Linked DNA regions of Homo sapiens. The protein of the gene in region 3 purifies or fractionates together with the protein of the main gene of each other region. This does not show direct contact. Each region holds a gene or a part of one and is shown on either strand. Other genes may lie near its edges. The genes, in order: MPLKIP, CWF19L1 and DBR1.

Region 1 (7,424 bases), on a different chromosome or scaffold from region 3:
GCATAAGCCACCACGCCCAGCCTGATTCCTAAACTTAATCCAATAACAGATTTCTTCTCAAACATTGGCAGTATGCTGTAATCATTTTAAATTCATAACCAGAAAATGAGTTGAACAAAAAATTCAAGACTCTAGGGAAACAAAAATAGTTTGTATATTGCTAGAATTGTCTATTAAGAGTCATGTTTTCATGCCTTTTAATCTTCCCTGAAAATTTCTGTGTACTGCCATGAGTAAAATTTTTAAAAAATGTTCAACATCACCAATCATCAGAGAAATACAAATTAAAAACCACAATGAGATATCATCTTACACACAACAGAATGGCTATTAAAAAGACAAAAAAAATCACAGGATGTTGGTGAGGAAGCTGAGAAAAGGGAACTCTTCTTATACACTGTTGGTGGGAATGTAAATCAGTGCACCTTCTATGGAAAACAGTATGGAGATTTCTCACAGAACTAAAAATAGAACTACCGGAAGATGCAGCAATCCCACTACTGTGCATCTACCCAAAGGAAAAGAAATCATTACATCAAAAAGACACCTGCACTCATATGTTTATCACGGCACTATTCATAAAAGCAAAGATATGAAATCAACCTAAGTGCCCATCAATGGAGCACTAAATAAACAAAATATGGCATATATACAAAATGGAATACTATTCAGCCATAAAAAAGAATGAAATTATGTCTTTTGCAGCAACATGGATAGAACTGGGGGCCATTATCTTAAGTGAAATCACTCAGGCACAGAAAAACAAATATTGCCTGTTCTCCCTTATAAGTTGGTGGTAAATAATGCGTACATATGGAAGCAGAGTGTGGAGTGATGGGCAATGGAGACTTGGAGGGTTGGGGATGTAGAGGGAAGGGGATGGACTACAGGAGGTTGCTTGCTGGGTACAATGTGTCTTGTGCCAGTGATGGATGCACTGAAGGCCCTGACTTCACCCCAATACAATATATCAATGTAGCAAAACTGCACTTGTACCCCCATGAATATATGCCAAAACAAAATCATAACTGGCTGGGGCACAGGGGGCTCATGCCTGTAATCCCAGCACTTTGAGAGGCCCAGGTGGCTGGATTCTGTGAGCTGAGGAGTTCAAGACCAGTGTGGGCAACATGGCAAAACCCCATGTCTTCAAAAAATACAAAAATTAGCCAGGCATGGTGGCACACACTTCTGGTTTCAGCTACTTGGGAGGCTGAGGTGGAAGGATTGCTTGAGCCCAGAGAGGCAGAGGTTGCAGTGAACTGGGATTGCGCCACTGCACTCCAGCCTGGATGAAAGAGCAAGACATGTCTCAATACTTAAATAAATAAAAAATATATAGAGAGAGTATACTGCTATACGACAGAAAAACACAACTCAAACTTTTTTATTGGTCACTTTTATCTTGCTACAAAATGTACTACTAGAAGCTTAAAAAGAGCATGGCTTTTGAATTTTAATAAATTTTAGTGAACTTTAGTTAGATTGAAGTTATACAGATAAATGGGTTGATGGAATAAAGATCTATATACTCATTAGGCGTCCATCAGTTAAACTGTTTACTATTAAATTAATTTGTTGGTTGGGCATGGTGGCTCACCACACCATTTAATTGCAGAGTTTTGGGAGGCCAAGGCAGGAGAGAGGAATGCTTGAGGTGGGGAGTTCTGGGAAACACAGCAAGACCCTGTCTCTACAAAAAATAAAGAAATAAAAAAATTAGCCAGGCATGGTAGCATGAGCCTGTACTCCCAGCTACTTGGGAGACTGACGTGGGAAGATCACTTGAGCCCAGGAGGTCGAGGATGCAGTGATCTGTGATCTCACCACCGCACTCCAGCCTCGGTGACAGAGTGAGACCACCCCATGTCCATAATAATAATAATAAAGTTAATTTTGGTCCCCACCACTCTCACTTTTCTGCCCCCTCCCCTGAGTAGACTGGCTGATGATCTAAAAGGTGAAAATTACCTATGTGATGTATGTGAACCTTTTTTTTTTCCAGTGGGGTGGGGGGGCATGATAGGGTCTCGCTCTGTTACCCAGGCTGGAGTGCAGTGGCACAATAGCGGATCACTGCAGCTTCAACCTCCTAGGACTCAAGCCATCCCACCTCAGCCTCCCAAGCAACTGGGACTACAGGCGCACGCCACCAAGCCCGGCTAATTTTTTTTGTATTTTTGGTAGAAATGGGGCTTCACGATGTTGCCCAGGCTGGTCTTCAACTCCTGGGCTCAAGCAATCGTCCCACCTAGGTCATTTTATTCAATAAATATTCAAATGAGCAATTCCCAAGCATTAAGTTAAACACTAAAGACAATGTCCAGAAAGGTGAATTTTTGGCCAGGACAGAACTACTGTATTTAATAAAGTGGATAGGCTGGAGTCCTCCGACCTTAATTGTATCACTAAGCCTTAATGGCAACGTGCTACCTTGATTAAGTCTATCACTTGTATCTACAGAAGAAACGAAATGTAGTGAATTGAATTTCCACAGAATAAACAAACAAAAAAACTGTCTGTGTGTGTCTCCATTCATCAAGGAGGATAGAAGCTGAGAAGATACCACACTCGTCAGCTTGGGATGTCACAGAACATGTCAAAGAGACAGCGAGGAGTAGCAGCTACAAGAGGGTGAATGGAAATCACAGGTCCAGGCTACCCGTTAGGCTATGATTTAATGAGTCCTAAAGCTCTTTTAAGATTCTGTATCCTACGCCAGGCGCGGTGGCTCACGCATGAAATCCCAGCACTTCGGGAGGCAGAGGCAGGCGGATCACTTGAGCCCAGGAATTTGAGACCAGCCTGGCCAACATGGTGAAACCCGTCTTTACTAAAAATACAAAAAAATTAGCCGGGCATGTGGCACATGCCTGTAATCTCGGCTACTCTAGAAAGCTGAGGCAAGAGAATCGCTTGAACCCGCGAGGCAGAGGTTGTGGTGAACCAAGATCGCGCCACTGCACTCCAGCCTGGGCGACAGAGCGAGACTGTCTCAAAAAAAAAAAAAAAAATCCTGCATCCTGCAACTAATTTCAAGATTCATAGTGGGCCGCGCGCATAATCATAGAGATTACGTCTGTAATCTCAACACTTTGGGAGGCCGAGGCGGGAGGATAACTTGAGGTCAGGAATTCGAGACCAGCCTGGCCAATATGGCGAAACCCCGTCTCTACTAAAAATACAAAAATTAGTTGGGCGTGGTGGCGCATGCCTATAATCCCAGCTACTCGGAAGGCTGAAGCAGGAAAATCTCCTGAACACGGGAGGAGGAGGTTGCAGTGAGCCGAGATCGCGCCACTGCAGTCCAGCCTGGGCGAGACAGCGAGACTCCGTCTCAAAAAAAAGAGAAAAAAAGAAAAAAGGAAAAAAAAGATTCATAGTGGATTACCATTCCCAAATTCAGAGGGAGTAAAGAAAGTTCTATAACACTGTAGTAAAGCTAAATTTCATCCTCTAAATAAAATTCTGCAACAGGTAACTGTACAAGGGCATCTTTTATTGTACATGAAGTGTCAAGTTATTCAAAGCAGCGGGCTAAAGTCCTTTCTGAAATGTGGCTTGGTGTGCATTTTCGAAGTTACTTAAACTTGGCGGACGAAAGGACAGGAGTAAAGAGGCCCCAAACGCGAGCCGCGGGACGCGCAGGAGCGGGACCCCACGGCGCACGGAGCCCTCGGTCACAACAACGCACGGGACAGAGGCGACCCTGGGCGGCCAGAGCGGGGCAGGCCGGCCGCAGGCCCACGGAACGGGGTTGCAGGGAGGCGAGCAAAGCCACCGCTAAGGGGTCAGCAGAGACTTCAGACCCTAATTGCTCTCCTCAGGGCGCCCGAGGAGGCAAGCTGGGGCAGGGATCCCTTTAGCCACCCAGACCGAATCTCGGAGGGTACCTGACTGCGGGCGGCCAGTCCACAGCCCCCTCCCGCCGCCCCGGCCGGAGAAGAGGCAGGTTCTGCGCAGAGCTGCCACCCTCGCCAGCGTCGCCAGCATCGCGTGCGTCTCAGATGGCATCGGTCCCGGTGCAAGCGGCGAACTCCGTGCGGCGCCACCCGCCGCCACTGGGGGGCGCCCACGGACGCCGCAGACCCCGCCCCCGCCGGGCGGGGCTGAGCACTAGTCGCCTGCTGGGCCAGCTTCTAGTCTGTCGGTCAGACCAAGGGCACTCAGACTGGAAAGGTTGTTGCTGGGCTTGGGTGTCCGTCCTTTCCTGTCTCCTTTTCTTCCTCTTTTCACTTAAATCCACTGAGTCTCTCGCCAAGTCAGTGATTTAGGTAATCCCGCCGCCCCTGGCGGAACCTTTGTGACGCCGGAACTGATGTGCCGTAGGGTGGCTGCGGTCGGAGGACTGTTTTGGTAAAGGACTAGCAGTTCTCTGCGGAGGGCCGGTTGATACAGTTCCGGTGGGAGAACGCGGCTGCGAGGTTTTCGGCTTTGGCTCCTGATATGCAGCGACAGAATTTTCGGCCCCCAACTCCTCCTTACCCTGGTCCGGGTGGAGGAGGTTGGGGTAGCGGAAGCAGCTTCCGGGGAACCCCGGGCGGGGGCGGACCACGGCCGCCCTCCCCTCGAGACGGGTACGGGAGTCCGCACCACACGCCGCCGTACGGGCCCCGGTCTAGGCCGTACGGGAGCAGTCACTCTCCGCGACACGGCGGCAGCTTCCCGGGGGGCCGGTTCGGGTCTCCGTCCCCTGGCGGCTACCCTGGCTCCTACTCCAGGTCCCCCGCGGGGTCCCAGCAGCAATTCGGCTACTCCCCAGGGCAGCAGCAGACCCACCCCCAGGTAATAATAATAGCCAGCGTTTGCCGAGCTCTTACTTTATGGCAGGCACGGTACTAATATTCCCTTTACGTGGATTATTTTGTCTAATCCTCTCTGAGGTACTATTGTTAGCCCAATTTTGCAGATGAGCGAACTGAGGCTTAGAGAAGTTGAGTGACTTCCGGAAGATTATCCGAAAGAGTGGCAGAGCCGTACGTTCTGTTTTCGAGCCCTCGTGCTTTTAACCAATACACTGCCACCCGTACACAGATTTTCCTAATTCTCCATTTCCTCCTGTTTGCCAAAGGCCTTGCCAGTTTGTTTCAAGAAATAGTTCTTTTTCTTTTTTTTTTTTTTTTTTTTATCTTTCTTTCGAGCTACACTGGCTTCTGCTCCAACTTCCCTGAAAAGAAAATCGGTGGTAGTGGAAGTTTTCCATTCCTTTAGTGAGAGTAAATACAAAAGACAGAGAGAGTATCTCTAGCATGTCTGGGATTTCTGTGGTTTACAACTTGCAACTACGTGGTTTTCCAACTTGCTGTATTCTACACCAACCCCCTACCCCTTTTGAGCCTGGAGCTAAGGAGTAAAGAAAATGTTCATGAGCTAGAAAGGTTCTAGAAACTTTAAAACTATAGTATTGTTTTCTCCTGAAAAAAGTGAAAATTTCGAGGGAAAATTGAATATAATTACTTGATTTCATCACTGCTTGTATTTAATTACTGCAAAGTTACTACATTAGACACAAAAGTATTTGAGATGACAGTGGTCATGGAATTATAAATAAATGAGAATAACGAATTGCTTTAAGTACTTTTTTTAAAAAATAGGAACACTTGATTAAAGGAAGCATGGACTTTGTAATTGAACATTATTTAGGTTCAAGTCACAACTTTTAAGCAGCAATGTGATTCCCGCTAACCTTTAGCTAAAGGAAGAAGTACCAATTATCTTTACTAAGTGTTTTTTTAACTGATTTTTTTTCTAAAGGGTTCTCCAAGGACATCTACACCATTTGGATCAGGGCGTGTTAGAGAAAAAAGAATGTCTAATGAGTTGGAAAATTATTTCAAGCCTTCAATGCTTGAAGATCCTTGGGCTGGCCTAGAACCAGTATCTGTAGTGGATATAAGCCAACAATACAGCAATACTCAAACATTCACAGGCAAAAAAGGAAGATACTTTTGTTAACATTTCTGAAATTCAACTGGAAGCTTCATGTGTCAGGAACATCTTGGACAAAACTTTAAGTTGTGTTGATATAAATTTACCCAAAGATGATGACTTTGATTGGATAATTAGTAAGGTCTTTTTGTTATTTTTCATCGTATCAGGTATTGTTGATATTAGAGAAAAAAGTAGGATAACTTGCAACATTTAGCTCTGGAAGTACCTACCACATTTTAGAGATTTACCGTTTCCATATATTTAACATTCCTGGTTACATAATGGACATTTGTCTTTTAATGTTTTTTCAATGTTTTAAAATAAAACATTTTGTCTTCTAGCTATTGTGGTTTTGTGGTATGATAAAGAAGTAGACTTACTACAGTAATGCTTTGTAGTCACTTAGAGTTCATAGGTAAATGTTTTGCAAATTATTTTTGAAAATGAAATAGGTAAACCATCCTTTGAGCTGTAGACAGCTCTGTATTTGTTCGTAAATAATGAGGATGAGAATAACAGAGTTCTGTTCATACTCATTTTATCTAATGCTTCTGTTAAAATGCATTAAAACTTGAAGCCCCAGAAACCCATTTAAGCATAACTTTATACTCATTTAACTGGAAAAGGCAAGAATAGACCATGCATTGCTAAATCAAAGTGTTCTATCTGAATTTCTCTATACCTCTTAGCATTATGGAGTTAGTTTCTCTTGAGGCCAAAGAAGATAGCTACCAGCAGCCTCAAATCACTTCCATTGCAAAAAGAACATCTCTCATCTCCATCAATCCAAGAGAAGACAAATTTGCCATACTTAGATCATGTTTCTGTATTATTGAACCAATTAACTGTGGCCAAGGCCACAGTGAGACCTAATTAACTTGAATCATGGACACATCACCATAATGAGACAGGATTCTGTGACCTTGAACACCACTGGGCCTACCTGGAGTAGAGAAGTGGTTTTCCAAATTAAGGGATGCTATGGATATATACCTATAGTTCTGGAGAGAAAAATATGGAAGAATTGTTACCCCAACTATTTTTTAAAAATCAAGTGGTTTTTTGTTTGTTTTTTGAGATGGAGTCTGTTGCCCAAGCTGGAGTGCAGTGGTGCAATCTTGGCTCACTGCAACCTTCGGCTCCTGAGTAGCTGGGACTACAGGCACATGTCACCATGCCTGGCTAATTTTTGTATTTTTAGTAGAGACCATGTTTTGTTTTTTTTGTTTGTTTTGTTTTGTTTTTGAAATAGGGTCTCACTCTGTTGCCCACGCTGGAGTGCAGTGGCGCAATCTTGGCTCACTGCAACGTCCGCCTCCCAGGTTCATACGAGTCTCCCGCCTCGACCTCCTGAGTAGCTGGGAATACAGGCACGCGCCTGGCTCATTTTTGTATTTTGAATAGAGATGGGGTTTCACCGTGTTGGCCAGGCTGGTCTCGATTGAACTCCTGGTCTCAAGTGATCCCCTACCTTGGCTTCCCAAAGTGCTGGG
Region 2 (7,325 bases), on a different chromosome or scaffold from region 3:
AAAAAAAAAGTTGACTGTAAAAAAGCCTCAGGCAGGTCCTTCAGGAAGTATTCCAGAGGGCACTGTTATCATAGGAGATGACAGCTTCATGCATGTTATTACTACTGAAGCCCTTCCAGTGGGACAAGATATGGAGGTGAACAGCAGTGATACTGATGATCCTGACCCTGTGTAGGCCTAGACTCGTGTGTGTGTCTTAGTTTGCAACAAAACAAGTTTAAAGCCAGGCACAGTGGCTCACGTCTGTAATCCCAGCACTTTGGGAGGCTGAGGCAGGAGGGTAACTTGAGCCCAGGAGTTCAAGACCAGCCTGGGTAACATAGCAAAACCCCCTCTCTACAAAAAATACAGAAATTAGCCAGGTGTGGTAGCTTCCGCCTGTAGTCCCAGCTACTCAGGAGGCTGAAGTGGGAGAATCACTTGAGCCCAGGAGGTTGAGGTTGCAGTGAGCCGTGATTGCACAATTGCACTCCAGCCTGGGCGACAGTGAGACCCTGTCTCCAAAAAAAAAAAAAGTTTAAAAGGTAAAAAGAAAAAAAAAGTAATAGAAAAAAGCTTGTAGAATAAGGATATAAAGAAAATATTTTTGTACAGCTGTACAATGTGTTTTATGTCTTAGCTGTGTTATAACAAGAGTCAAAAAGTGTAAAAAAACTTAAAGTTTATAAAGTAAAAGTTACAGTAAACTAAGGTTTACTGTTGAAAATAATATTTTAATAAATTTAATATAGGTGAAGTGTACAGTATTCATAAAGTCTACAATACTGTAAAGTAATACATTCACTCACCTCTTACTAACTCACTCAGAGAAACTTTCAGTTCTGCAAACTCCATTCATGATAAGTGTCCTACACAGGTTGTGCCCTTTTTTTTTTTCCTGTATACAGTATTTTCTTTTTTTCTTTTTCTTTTTTTTTTTTTTTGAGACAGTCTCGCTCTGTCGCCCAGGCTGGAGTGCAGTGGTGCGATCTCGGCTCACTGCAACCTCTGCCTCCCAGGCTCAAGCCATTCTCCTGCCTCAACCTCTTGAGTAGCTGGGATTACAGGCGCCCGCTACCACACCCGGCTAATTTTTGTATGTTTAGTAGACACAGGGTTTCACCATGTTGGCCAGGCTGGTCTTGAACTTCTGACCTCAGGTGATCCACCCACCTCGGCCTCCCAAAGTGTTGGGATTACAGGCATAAGCCACCACACCCGGCCAGGTGTTTTCACTGTACCCTTTCTATATTTAAATACAAAAATGCTTACCATTGTGTTACAATTGCCTACAGTATTCAGTACAGTAACTTGACGTACAGCTATACCATTTAGCCTAGGTGTACAGGAAGCCATACCATCTAGGTCTCTGGAAGTACACTCAAAGATGTTCGCACAATGACGAAATCGCCTACCAACTCATTTCTCAGAACATAACCCTGCTGTTAAGCAATGGATTACTCTTATTTCCCAAGGCTCAATCCTAACATTCTCGGGAAGCCTTCTTGACTCCTATCATTAAGCCAAATACCCCTCTTATGCACTCTCCCAGATTCACGAATATTTTCTTCCCAAAAGTTACCACTATTGCAATTTTTTTTTTTTTTTTTTTGAGACAGGGTTTCAATCTGTCACCCAGCCTGGAGATCAGCAGCACGATCACAGCTCACTGCAGCATCGACCTCCCCAGGCTCAGGTGGTCCACCTGCTTCAGCCTCCCAATTAGCTGGGACCACCACGCCCGGCTAATTTTTTTTTTTTTCTGTATTTTTTGTAGAAACGGGGCCTTGCTATATTGCCCAGGCTGGTCTTGAATTCCTGGACTCAAGTGATTCTCTTGCCTTGGCCTCCGGAGTCGCTGGGATTATAGGCGTGAGCCACTGCGCCTGGCCCTATCACTATGGTAACTTTACATTTATCTGAATTCCTTTTTTTTTAGACGGAGTCTCACTCTGTTACCTAGGCTGGAGTGCAGAGGTGCAGTGTCGGCTCACTGTGCAACCTCCGCCTCCGGGTTCAAGCGATTCTCCTGCCTCAGCCTCCCAAGTAGCTGGGATTACAGGCACGCGCCACCACGCCTGGCTAATTTTTTTTTTTTGTATTAGTAGAGACGGGGTGTCACCACGTTGGCCAGGCTGGTCTCGAACTCCTGACCGCAAGTGATCCGCCCGCCTCAGCCTCCCAAAGTGCTAGGATTACAGGCGTGAGCCACCGCGCCCGGCCATTATTTGTATTGTTTTTTGTTTGTTTTGTTTTGTTTTGTTTTGTTTTGAGAGTCTCGTTCTGTCGCCCAGGCTGGAGTGCAGTGGCGCGATCTCGGCTCACAGCAACCTCCGCCTCCCGGGTTCAAGCGATTCTCCTGCCTCAGCCACCGCGCCCGGCCCATTATCTGGATTCTTTAGTACCTGTTCCTCTAGACTCTACGCTCCATTAAAGCAGGAACTCCATCTGTTGCAACACCTAGCACAGCGTCCGGCACACTGCAGTTCTTCAATAAATACTTGCTGCATGAAGCCCTCTCTTCACCACCACCCCCACCCCTCCTCCTCGCAAAAAAAAAAAAAAAAAAAAAATGCCCCAGGGAAGGGTCCCTATCTACTCTGTCCACCACTGCCCAGGGCCCATCAGTGGGCCCAATGGCTATTTGGCGAGTAAATAAATGGGGTCAGGAGAAACGAAGGGGAAAGGATGTGTCAGAGGCCAGGACTGCCCCCTAAGATGGAGGAGGCCTAACTCTGGGAGCTTCCGCCTCTCCGAACGAGCGTCGCCAAGAGAAACCCCCTCAGAAGCGAAAAGGGCCAGGAAAAGAGGTCAGCCCCGGCCAGGCAAAGACATCACCTAAGCTCCCCAGCAGCCCCGTGTCTCTCCGCCTTTTCCTTCTCCCTTCCCGTCATGGGAAAGACTCCCGCCCGTGTCGTCACCTACACACACGAAAGAGACACAGGGAGAGAGGCTTCCATTCACGGTCACTCACAGGCGCAGCGGTTTCTGTGCCATCTGTCCGAATAGTATGGGTTGCGACTGCCACCTAAAATTGGGAATGCGAATCCGCGCTCCCCGGAAAAATGCGACCGCGCAACAATCAGACGTCAGCGCCCTCCAGCCAATAACGGTTCACTTACTTACGGAGACCGCCGAGGGACAGAAGCCTCTCTCAGGTGTTTGCGCCTCAAGGAAGAATCAAGAGGGAAAGGGAGGAACGAAGGGAGAAAGAGAAAGTGACCGAAAGGATTCCAACTATGATTTTTTAAATTAAATTTCAGAGCACTTGAAGCGAATGAATGGCTAGGAAGTACAGAGCACAATGTCGGGTTCTAACCTAACCTAACCTAACCTAACCTAACCTAACCATATCGGTCTAGTGGGCAAGACAGACCCCCTCTATCCACGTTTTTTGTAAGTTTTTAACCTATCAAAAAGTTAAGAGGCCGGGCGTGGACGCTCACGCCTATAATCCCAGCACTTTGGAAGGCTGAGGCGGGCGGATCACTTGAGGTCGGGCGTTCAAGACCAGCCTGGGCAACATGGTGAAACCCCGTCTCTTCTAAAAATACAAAAATTAGCCGGGCATGGTGGAGAATTGCTTCAACCAGGGAGGCGGGGGTTGCAGTGAGTCAAGATCGCGCCATTGCACTCCAGCCTGGACAACAAGAGCGAAACTCCGTCTCAAATTAAAAAAAAAAAAGTTAAAAGAATAATGGCTATTACCTTGATTCAGTAAGTCTCAGCATGTTGGCAAATTTGCTTGTGTTCTCTTTCTCTCAAAGTGCCCAAGCCCTTCCATTCTCACTCAATCATTTGAAAGTAAAGTACAGGCCGGGCGCAGTGGCTCACGCCTGTAATCCCAGCACTTTGGGAGATCCAGACCATCCTGGCTAACACGGTGAAACCCCCTCTCTACTAAAAATACAAAAAATTAGCCGGGCGTGGTGGCACGCACCTGCAGTCCCAGTTACTCGGGAGGCTGAGGCAGGGGAATCGCTTGAACCCAGGAGGAGGAAGTTGCAGTGAGCCGAGATCGCGCCACTTCACTCCAGCCTGGGCGACAGAGCGAGACTCCGTGTCAAAAAATAAAATAAAATAAAGTGCGGACAACAGGAATACATCTCCATTTATCTCCTAAGATTAGGATATCCTCCTACATAACCGTAATACTATTAACACAGCTAAGAAAATTAACATTAATTATTCAATAATATTACCTAATATACATCCATATTTAAAGTTCTCCATATTTCCCTACAAACTGATTTTATATTTGGGGCTTGTTTTGATTCAGATGCAATCAAGTTTCACACTTGCATTTGGTTCTGTCTCTATTTTAATCTACAAAAGCCCTCCTACCTATTTGGTTTTAGTTTTTGTAATATTGACTTTTTTGAAGGGTTCAGGCCAAGTGGTAGGAAACAAGTGTGTAAGGAAATGGAAACAAGAGAGAGTTCCTGACGACTGCGGGGAAAGGAAGACTCATCAAGGGCATCTAAATAATTCAAAATTAATAAAACATAAGATTAAAGAAGAACTACAGGCCAGGCACAGTGGCTCATGCCTGTAATCCCAGCACTTTGGGAGGCTGAGGCGGGAGGTTCACTTGAGAACAGGAGTTCAAGGCCAACCTGGGCAACATAGCCAGACCTCGTCTCTACTACAAATTTAAAAAGAAAAAAAAAAAAGTTAGCTGGGCATGGTGGCCGTATGCCTGTACTCCCAGGTACTCCAGAGGCTGAGGTGGGGAGATCACTTGAGCCCAGGAGATGGAGGCTTCAGCGAGCTATTACCTTGCCACTGCACTCCAGCCTGGGTGACACAGCAAGCCCTGTCTCAATAACCAAACAAAACTACAAAGTTCTGGCTTTTCCCACAGCCTACAAGCCTTCTTTTTTGTTTGTTTCTTGCCTCATAACTGGTGGCTCTGCTTTGCTGGCACATAAGCATGCATTTTTTCCTACTCTTTGGATAATACAGCACTGCCCAGGAGTAGCACTCAAGACTGAATCTTGAAGAAGAGTAGAAGTTTGCCAAACATGAGCAGGTAATAATTCCCAGAAGAGGATACAAAAGTAAGACATAAAAACTCATCGTATTGAAAAATCAAAAGACTCCACGAAAAAGACTGTTAGAAATAATAAACGAATTCAGTAAAAGTTTCAGGATACCAAATCAACATACAAAAATCAGTAGCATTTATATGCACCAACAGTAAACAATCTGAAAAAGAAATCAAAAAAGCAATCTCATTTACAACAGCTACAAAGAATATAAACTACGTAGGAATCAATTTAACTAAAGAAATGAAAGATCTATACAAGGAAAACTATACAATACTGATGAAAGAGGACACACACACAAAAAGGAAAGATATTCCACGCTTATGGATTAGAAGAATTAGGCGGGCAGATCACGAGGTCAGGAGATCGAGACCTTCCTGGCTAACACGGTGAAACCCCGTCTCTCCTAAAAATACAAAAAAATTAGCCAGGCGTGGTAGCGGGCGCCTGTAGTCCCAGGTACTCGGAAGGCTGAGGCAGCAGAATGGCATGAACCCGCGAGGCAGAGCTTGCAGTGAGCGGAGATCCAGCCACTGCACTCCAGCCTCTAGCCTGGGCAACAGAGCGAGACTCCGTCTCAAAAAAAAAAAAAAGAAAGAAAGAAAAAAGACAACACTACCTAAAGCAATTTACAGATTCAGTCCAATCCCCATCAAAATACAAATGGCATTCTCTAGATAGAGCAAGGATCCCCAACCCCCGGGCTATGGACCAGTACCCATCAGAAACCAGGACGCACAGCAGGAGGCGAGCGGTGGGCAAGTGAGAATAACCGCCTGAGCTCACTTCCTATCAGATTAGTGGTGGCATCAGATTCTTACAGAGGCTGGAACCCTATTGTGAACTGCACATGCGAGGGTTCTACGGCGCTGCGTACCTTACAAGAATCTGATGCCTGATGATCTGAGGTGGAACAGTTTCATCCCCAAACCATCCCCCCATCCCTACTTTCAGCTCTCTTTTTCTAATGTAAATGTCATGTACGAGCGTTTGTTTTTTTTGTTTTGTTTTGTTTTGTTTTTGTTTTTGTTTGAGACTGAGTCTCGCTCTGTCGCCCAGGCTGCAGTGCAGTGGCGCGATCTACGCTCACTGCAAGCTCCGCCTCCCGGGTTCACGCCATTCTCCTGCCTCAGCCTCCAGAGTAGCTGGGACTACAGGCACCCGCCACCATGCCTGGCTAATTTTGTTTTTGTATTTTTAGTAGAGACGAGTTTTCACCGTGTTAGCCAGGATGGTCTCGATTTCCTTGACCTCGTGATCCGCCCGCCTCGGCATCCCAAAGTGCTGGGATTACAGACGTGAGCCACCGCGCCCGGCCACAATAGTTTTATTTGACGTCAGGACTGTTTTGTAGACCGAGGTGTGATAGATGTGGCACGCACCAGCCACGGTTTCCACCGTCCCCAGAGCGTGGAGAGGCAGCGCCACTGCTCTCAAGGTTAATGACAACTCAATAAAGCACTGCTTTTATTTTTTGCAGTCTTCAATTTGAGAAAGGCCAGAAATAATGTTTTCAATAAATATGGTTCATACCATTAAAAAAAAAAATCCCCCCGCGTCCACGGAAAAATTGTCTTCCATAAAAGCGGTCCCTGGTGCCAAAAAGATTAGGGACTGCTGCTCTACAGAAATAGAAATAGAAAAAACAATCCTAAAATCTATATGGAACCACAAAAGACCCCAAAGAGCCAAAGCAATCCTGAGCAAAAAGCACAAAGCTGAAGGCATCATACTGCCCAACCTCAAAATCTACTACAAAGCTATGGTAACCCAATCAGTATGGTACTGACATAAAAATAGACACATAGACCAATGGAACATATATAAATCCATGCATTTACAGCCAACTCATTTTATGTCAATACCAAAAGTACAAAGGTGCCAAGAACATTCAATGAGGAAAGGACAGTCTCTTCAATAAATGATTCTTGGAGAACTGGATAGCCCTATACTGAAGAATGAAACTCAACTCTATCTCTCACCATATACAAAAATCGCATCAAAATGGATAAAGACTTAAACCTAACACATGAAACTATGAAGCTACCAGAAGAAAATACTGGAGAAATGTTCCAAGATATTGATCTGGGCAAAAATTTTTTGTATAAGACTTCAAAAGCACAGGCAACAAAAGCAAAAATAGACTAATAGGATTATATCAAACTAAAAAGCTCTGCACAGCAAAGGAAACAATCAACAAAGTGAAGAGGCAACCCACAGAATGGAAGAAAATATTTGCAAACTATCCATCTGACAAGAGATTAATAACCAGAATAAATATAACAAGGAGCTCAAACA
Region 3 (7,552 bases):
CTTGATATGGGTGGTTGTCATATGTGCATCATCACACTGTGCACTTAAAATGTTATTTATGTTACTTTAAGTAAGCTATACCTTAATTAAAATTTTTTACATGGAGAAAAAAGATCTAGAGGAAAACAATTCCCATAGATTAAAAATAAAATGCAAAAGTTAAATTTAACAATGTAAAAAGCATCCATTGTTCTATTATATTTCAACAAAATCTATACAGAAGGAAAATAAAATATTTAAAACTAATCAGAAATATTAGATTTCCATATTTTTCTACCTTCCTGATCAATTTAAATATCATGAAAATCATATCTTCCTTGTAAATTTGAAATAAATTGCTCCAACATCACTCTGGACACAATGTCTTCGTATCTTTGATAATCTTTACAGTGTCTCCTATTATCATTGTTCTGTTTACATGTACTGCTTCATTTTTAATTAATTTTGGTGTTTTTTCCTATAATATTCATTTTAATTAGTTTTTTTAAATGGGAAGAGATGGATTTATTGTTCTGTGTACTGCCTTGATTAGATTATCTTTTCTTGATTAAGTTTTCCAGAGGTGTTTTCTTTGCTTGTTTTTGTCTTGGTCACTTTTTCTTTCTTTCTTTCTTTCTTTTTTTCTTTTTTTTTGAGACAGAGTCTAGCTCTGTTGCCCAGGCTGGAGTATAGTGTCTGCAACCTCTGCCTCCCAAGTTCAAGCGATTCTTCTGCCTCAGCCTCCCGAGTAGCTGGGATTACAGGCACTCACCACCACGCGCAGCTAATTTTTTGTATTTTTAGTAGAGACAGGGTTTCACCATGTTGGCCAGGCTGGTCTGGAACTCCTGACCTCAAGTGATCCGCCTGCCTCGGCCTCCCAAAGTGCTGAGCTTACAGGTGTGAGCCACTCCGCCTAGCCCACTCATTCTTTATTTACCAGTTTGGTCATCTTCCTTTCTGAAAGTTTTAGAAATATTCACCTACTTTCATTTAGCTTGCATTCTAGTTAGGAAAACTATTTGTCAGGAAAATAAAAAGTCCTTGGCCACTTAAAGAAAAAAAAAACTGATAATTTTAGAAACTCTTAGAGGGAGGTCGTTTTTTTGTTTGTTTGTTTGTTTTGTTTTGTTTTTGTTTGTTTGTTTTGAGACGGAGTCTCGCTCTGTCTTTCCCAGGCTGGAGTGCAGTGGCGTGATCTCGGCTCACTGCAACCTCTCCCTCCTGGGTTCAAGCAATTCTCCTGCCTCAGCCTCCCCAATAGCTGGGAGGAGGAGTAGTAGTAGGCGTGCGCCACCACGCCCGGCTAATTTTTGTATTTTTAGTAGAGACGGGGTTTCACCCTATTGGCCAGGCTGGTCTTAAACTCTTGACCTCATGATCCGCCCACCTTGGCCTCCCAAAGTGCTGGGATTACAGGCGTGAGCCACCGCACCCGGCGGAGGGAGATAGTTTTTAAATCCTTGGTGGGTTTTAAAGTTTTATTTAAAAATAATTATTTTGGGGTGTCAAAATTTTTTTAAATTCTGATTCACTTTCAGGCAATTGTCTTTGCCTTGAGAAGTTCGTCCTAAGGAATTCGCCATTTGCGCCTGCTTGCTCGTTTATCTTAGTTTAATTTTATCAAACTAAATTCCTACTATTGGGGATTCTATTTACTATCCTAATTTAGAATTTTATCATCCGTGAGACTGCTAGGACTCAAGGACCTGTAAAGATAGGTGAAGACAGACCAAGCCCAAGAATCCTCTTTTCTTCTCTCTTTTTTTTTTTTTTTTTTGAGACAGGGTCTTGCTCTGTCCCCCAGGCTGGAGTGCAGTGGTGCAATCTCCGCTCACTGCAGCCTCTGTCTTCCAGGTTCAAGCAATTCTCCTGCCTCAGCCTCCCCAGTAGCTGGTACTACAGGCATGTGCCACAACGCCCTGCTAATTTTTGTATTTTTGGAGAGATACATGTTGGCCAGGCTGGTCTCGAACTCCTGGCCTCAAGTGATCTGCAAGGTACGGAGAGCATCAGGAAAAATAGCTAATGTATGCTGGGTTTAATACCTAGGTGATAGGTTGATAGGCGCAGTAAATCATCATGGCACACGTTTACCTGTGTAACAAATCTGCATAACCTGCACATGTATCCTGGAATATATATATATATATATATATACACACACACACACAAACGAGATATTTATTTATTTATTTATTCTTTTTGAGACAGGGTCTCACTCTGTAGCCCAGGCTGGAGTGCAGCAGCGCAATCTCGGCTCACTGCAACCTCCGCCTCCCGAGTTCAAACGATTCTCCCGCCTCAGCCTCCCAAGTAGCTGGGATTACAGGCATGCGCCACCACCCCCAGCTAAGTTCTTTATTTTTAGTAGAGACAGGGTTTCACCATGTTGGCCAGGCTGCTCTCGAACTCCTGGCTTCAAGAGATCCATCCACCTTGGCCTCCCAAAGTGCTGGGACAACAGGTGGGAGTCACCGCGGCCAAAAAACGAGATTTTTAAACTAAGAATCCAATGAAACAGAAACAGACAATAGAATCAGCTCTGCAGATAAGTAAGATATTGGGCTTAGAAGACAGGCAACCTAAAATAACAATGATTAATATATGAGAGAAAGAGAGGAAAAGATGAAGGAAATAAATTAAAAGATAAAGAATCTCTTTAAACTATTGGCTTCACTGGAAAAGAATCCAATATAAATCCTAAAATTGAAAAGGACTATAATGTTAAAACATTAATAAATGAGTTTGTACATTGGACATAGAACAAAATAGGATTAGTAAACTAGAAGAGAGGTTATTAGAAACTATCCAAAATAAAACACTGATAAAAATGAGAACTATGGAATAGAAATAAAAGATAGGTAAAATACCATGGAAAAATTCCAAAGGAGTAGGAAAAGACAGAAAAAAAAGCAACATTTAAGTAGATACTGACCAAGAATATTCCAAAACTGAAAAAAGATACCAAGCTATAGATTCAGAAAGCATAAATGAGTAAAGTTCAAAAAAAAAACCACCTAGATATATTTTATTAAAATAGCTTTAAGGAGTAGGGAGAGAAAGTAGAGAAAGAGAAAACAGTAAATAGCAAAGAAAAAGACACATTACTGGCTGGGCGCGGTGGCTAACGCCTGTAATCCTAGCACTTCGGGAAGCCGAGGTGGGCGTATCACTTGAGGTCAGGAGTTCGAAACCAGCTTGGCCACCATGGTGAAACCCTGTCTCTACTAAAAATGCAAAAAATTAGCTGGGCATGGTGGTGTGCACCTGTAATCCCAGCTACTTGGGAGGCTGAGGCAGGAGAATCGCTTGAACTGGGGAGGCGGAGGTTGCAGTGAGCCGAGATCGTGCCACTGCCTCCAGCCTGGGCAACAGAGTGAGAGACCGTCTCAAAAAAACAAAAAACAAACAAACAAACAAAAAACCCACATTACTTTCAGTGAAAAAAAACCTTAAGTTTATAGGTGACTTCTCAGTAGAAGATAATGCAAGCCAGAAGATAATAGAATGCTATTTTTGAAATGCTTTGTAAAAAAAAAACCACACACACACACACACACACACACACACACACACACTGCTTAACTGGTATTCGGTACTCAGTAAACACACCCTTTATGAATTAAGGTGAAACAAAGACATCTCTTTCTTTCTTTTTCTTTTTTTTTTTTTTAGACGGAGTCTCACCCTGTCACCCAGGCTGGAGTGCAATGGCACGATCTCAGATCACTGCAACCTCTGCCTCCTGGGTTCAAGCGATTCTCCTGCCCCAGCCTCCCAAGTAGCTGGGATTACAGGTGTGCGCCACCACGCCCAGCTAATTTTTTGTATCTTTAGTAGAGACAGGGTTTCACCATGTTGGCCATGCTGGTCTCAAACTCCTGACCTCGTGAGCCGCCCGCCTCTGCCTCCCAAAGTGCTGGGATTACAGGTGTGAGCCAGCACACTGGCTTCTTTTCTTTTCTTCTCTCTCTCTTTCTCTTTTGTCTCTTTTTTTTTTTTTTAGACGGAGTCTCGCTCTGTCGCCCAAGCTGGAGTGCAGGGGCGCGATCTCAGGTCACTGCAACCTCCGTCTCCTGGGTTTGAGGGATTCTCCTGCCTCAGCCTCTGAAGTAGCTGTGATTACAGACGTGCGCTACTGCGCCCAGCTAATTTTTGTATTTTTAGTAGAGACAGGGTTTCACCATTTTCCCCAGAGTGGAAAGAAATTTTTAAACAAACAAATATCTAGAAAAAAATTAATCTGTCGTCGGCCTACACTAAACAAACAGGAAAACTTAAACTGAGCTCTTCAGACAGAAGAAAAATGATTCCAAAGAGAAAAATGGAAATCCAGGAAGAAAAGAGTAAGGATGGAAAGAGTACATTTGTGGATGTATATACAAAAAAATATTGACTGCATAAAACAATAATTAAAAAAAAAGAAAAAAGGAAAAAAAGAAAATAAGTTCCCTGGGATCCCAGAATTAGGTTTGACCTTCCCGGTCCCTCTCTCGCGAGATCTGGAAACCGGAAGTGAATTATTTTGCAGGAGTCTACACCCAGGCGGTGGCTATACTTATTAAAGTTGGCGGGAGCTGAGCGATCAGTCGGTCCTGGGCTGGCTGTGGTGTAGGGCGTTGCAGGCAGCGCTCACCTCCTCAGGCCGGCAGAATGCGGGTGGCTGTGGCTGGCTGCTGCCACGGCGAGCTGGATAAGATCTATGAGACGCTGGCGCTGGCAGAGCGGCGCGGCCCGGGGCCTGTCGACCTCTTGCTGTGCTGCGGCGACTTCCAGGCGGTGCGCAACGAGGCGGATCTACGCTGCATGGCCGTGCCGCCCAAGTATCGTCACATGCAAACCTTCTACAGGTGAGGACGCGGCCGGGCCCGGACTTGGCGGTGGGGGGGTGGGACTGGGTTCCCTCTGCCACTGGCTGCCTGTTTCCCTTAGATCCTGTCTTTGTTCTCTCTGTATCTCTAATTGGTGCCTAACTGAATACAGGGGTGAGGTAGTGGGAGGCGGGAAATGTATTCAGTTCGGTACTGTATTCAGTTAGGTACCAAATTATGTCAGTTTCACTAGCACCCTATCTCATTAGGTGCTTAGGAAATGTCACTTTCCTTCTTTCCATACACATCTTATCCATTTCAAAGGGTGTCGAAGCCTGGGAGGGGATAACCTGGAGGAAGAAGCTGACAGGTTTAGATAGCTACCTTGTACTTGATAGGACTCTGGAATTAGTTCATTCAATGATCCTGAAGTTTTTACTGGGCCCCTGCTATGTGCTTGTTGTGGTTCTAGAAGATGAGGTTATGGCAATGAACTCGAAACAGTTCTTGACTTAATTGAACGGGCACTGACTTGAGGCTCAAGGTGGAAGCTCTTCATTCCTAAGGGCAAGGATGGATACTGGGCAATTCCTTTTTTTTTTTTTTTTTTTTTTCTTGAGACAGAGTTTCGCTTTGTTGCCCAGGCTGGAGTGCAGTACCGCGATATTGACCCACTGCAACCTCCGTCTCCTGGGTTCAAGCGATTCTCCCACCTCAGCCTCCCGAGTAGCTGGGATTACACCCAGCTAATTTTTGCATTTTTAGTAGAGACGGGGTTTCACCACATTGGCCAGGTTGGTCTCGAACTCCTGACCTCAGGGGATCCGCCTGTGTCGGCCATCAAAAGTGCTGGGATTACAGGAGGGAGCCACCGCGCCCAGCCCCAGGCAATTCCTTTTGAAAGAGCTTTTTAACTTTTTATGATGAACTCAGTTTCTTTTTTTTTTTCGGAACTTATTTGCTTTTCTGCTATGCCTAATTGTGGTAACTGACTTTGCTCTTATGTTCTAGGTATTACTCTGGAGAGAAAAAGGCTCCAGTTCTCACGCTCTTCATTGGGGGAAACCATGAAGCCTCAAATCATTTGCAAGAGTTACCCTATGGTGGCTGGGTGGCACCAAACATTTATTATTTAGGTATGTGATTGTGTTTGTGGATACTTTTTTTTCCTGGGATGGAAGAGCTTATCAGGATTTGCGTTAGTTGGACTGTGTCTTGACATGTATGGTGTTTGGAGAATGTCATTAATTTAAATACTTAATCGTGAAAATTTAATTAAGATAGTTAATTATTAAATGGTTGATCATGAAAATATGCCCTTCATCTAGTGTTTTAAGCACTAGCTAATATAATTGCAAAGACCTCACACACTATTTGTAGTCCCTTCATTTTTTCTTACAATTTTTATTGAATTAAAGACCTTAAACTTTTATTAATAGAAATTCTTAAGCATACACAAAAGTAGAGAATAGTATGATGAATCTCAGTACCTGTTAACCAGCTTCAACGACTATTATATTGCAATCTCCTGGATTTTTTTTTTTTTTTTTGTGGGAAGAGATGACTAGAGTATTTAAAGCAAGTCCAACCGTTAGATTATTTCACTTATACATATTTCAGTACATGTTTTTAAGTGATAAGGATCTTTAAAAATACTACTACAGTACTGTTATTATACTTAACTGAAGTAATCATTATCTATTGCCATGTTCGTGGTCAGATTTCCCTGCTTAATGTAAAGATGTCTGCTTTACAATTGGTTTAAATAGGACCCAGACAAGGCCAGCCCATTTCATTTGGTTGTCATGACTCTGAAGTCTATTAGACTAAAATAGTCTCCCTGTCTCGCTTTTTCATGCCATTTACTTGCTGAAGAAAACAGGAAATTTGTCTTGCAGCATTTCCTGCATTCAGGATTTAGCTGATTGGATTCCTTTTATCCTTTGCATTTCCTATAATCTGCTTTTAGATTTTCAGATTTGATTAGATTGTCTCAATATTGGCCCCTATAAACTATATAGCCTTTTCATCCCTTTATTTTTCGAGACAAGGTCTGGTTCTGTTGCCCAGGCTGGAGTGCAGTGGCCTGATCTCAGCTCATTGCAACCTTCGCCTTCCAGGCTCAAGCCATCCTCCCACCACAGCCTCCCAAGTAGCTGTGACTGCAAGCGTGTACCACCACGCCCGGCTAATTTTTTTGTTTTTTTGTATTTTTTTGTGGAGACTGAGTTTGGCCATGTTGTCCAGGCTGGTCTCGAACTCATGAGCTCAAAGTGATCCGCCCACCTGGGCCTCCAAAGTGGTGGGATTACAGGGATGAGCCACCGCACCCAGCTTCATCCCTTTATTTAAATGTATATTCTTTCTAGAACAGTTTATAGATTTTACCAATGATGAGATCATATTTCAGAAATTTAGTTTCCCTACTTTGCTACTTACTGATCATCTTTTGATGTATTCATCCTATATTACAATATTGTGAAGAAGTGAAATTGTCAGAAGATGATCAATCAGAAATGAAACTAGAAGCTGTAGGTTCTTTATACCTTATACCTGTTGATTTTCAGGTTTATACATGTAAATCCATCATAGGACATTTTCCACCTCCCACTACCTCACCCGTGTATTCAGTTAGGTACCAAATTATGTCTGTTTCACTTTCAGTACCCTATCTCATTTGTCCCTTCCAGAATCTACTTAGTGTTTTGGCTCATCTAATTCCAGACCTTACCTTTATATACTGTTATAATATATCCCTA

The links.
Region 1: the proteins of DBR1 (region 3) and MPLKIP purify together in Homo sapiens (affinity purification with mass spectrometry; 3 studies listed by BioGRID and IntAct, with this or other methods). This does not show direct contact.
Region 2: the proteins of DBR1 (region 3) and CWF19L1 purify together in Homo sapiens (affinity purification with mass spectrometry; 3 studies listed by BioGRID and IntAct, with this or other methods). This does not show direct contact.

What each region holds. Positions count from the first base shown.
Region 1 is NC_000007.14:40,131,590-40,139,013, reverse strand, and holds the start of MPLKIP (M-phase-specific PLK1-interacting protein), read left to right. Parts: upstream 1-4,391; 5' UTR 4,392-4,446; coding exon 4,447-4,785; intron 4,786-5,754; coding exon 5,755-5,955; 3' UTR 5,956-7,424. Other genes in the region: SUGCT (succinyl-CoA:glutarate CoA-transferase), read right to left, coding at 3,894-3,993. UniProt on the Homo sapiens protein: May play a role in maintenance of cell cycle integrity by regulating mitosis or cytokinesis.
Region 2 is NC_000010.11:100,264,618-100,271,942, forward strand, and holds the start of CWF19L1 (CWF19-like protein 1), read right to left. Parts: upstream 3,022-7,325; 5' UTR 2,977-3,021; coding exon 2,954-2,976; exon of another isoform or gene 2,909-2,953; intron 1-2,908.
Region 3 is NC_000003.12:138,171,879-138,179,430, reverse strand, and holds the start of DBR1 (lariat debranching enzyme), read left to right. Parts: upstream 1-4,509; 5' UTR 4,510-4,635; coding exon 4,636-4,832; intron 4,833-5,804; coding exon 5,805-5,929; intron 5,930-7,552. UniProt on the Homo sapiens protein: Cleaves the 2'-5' phosphodiester linkage at the branch point of excised lariat intron RNA and converts them into linear molecules that can be subsequently degraded, thereby facilitating ribonucleotide turnover.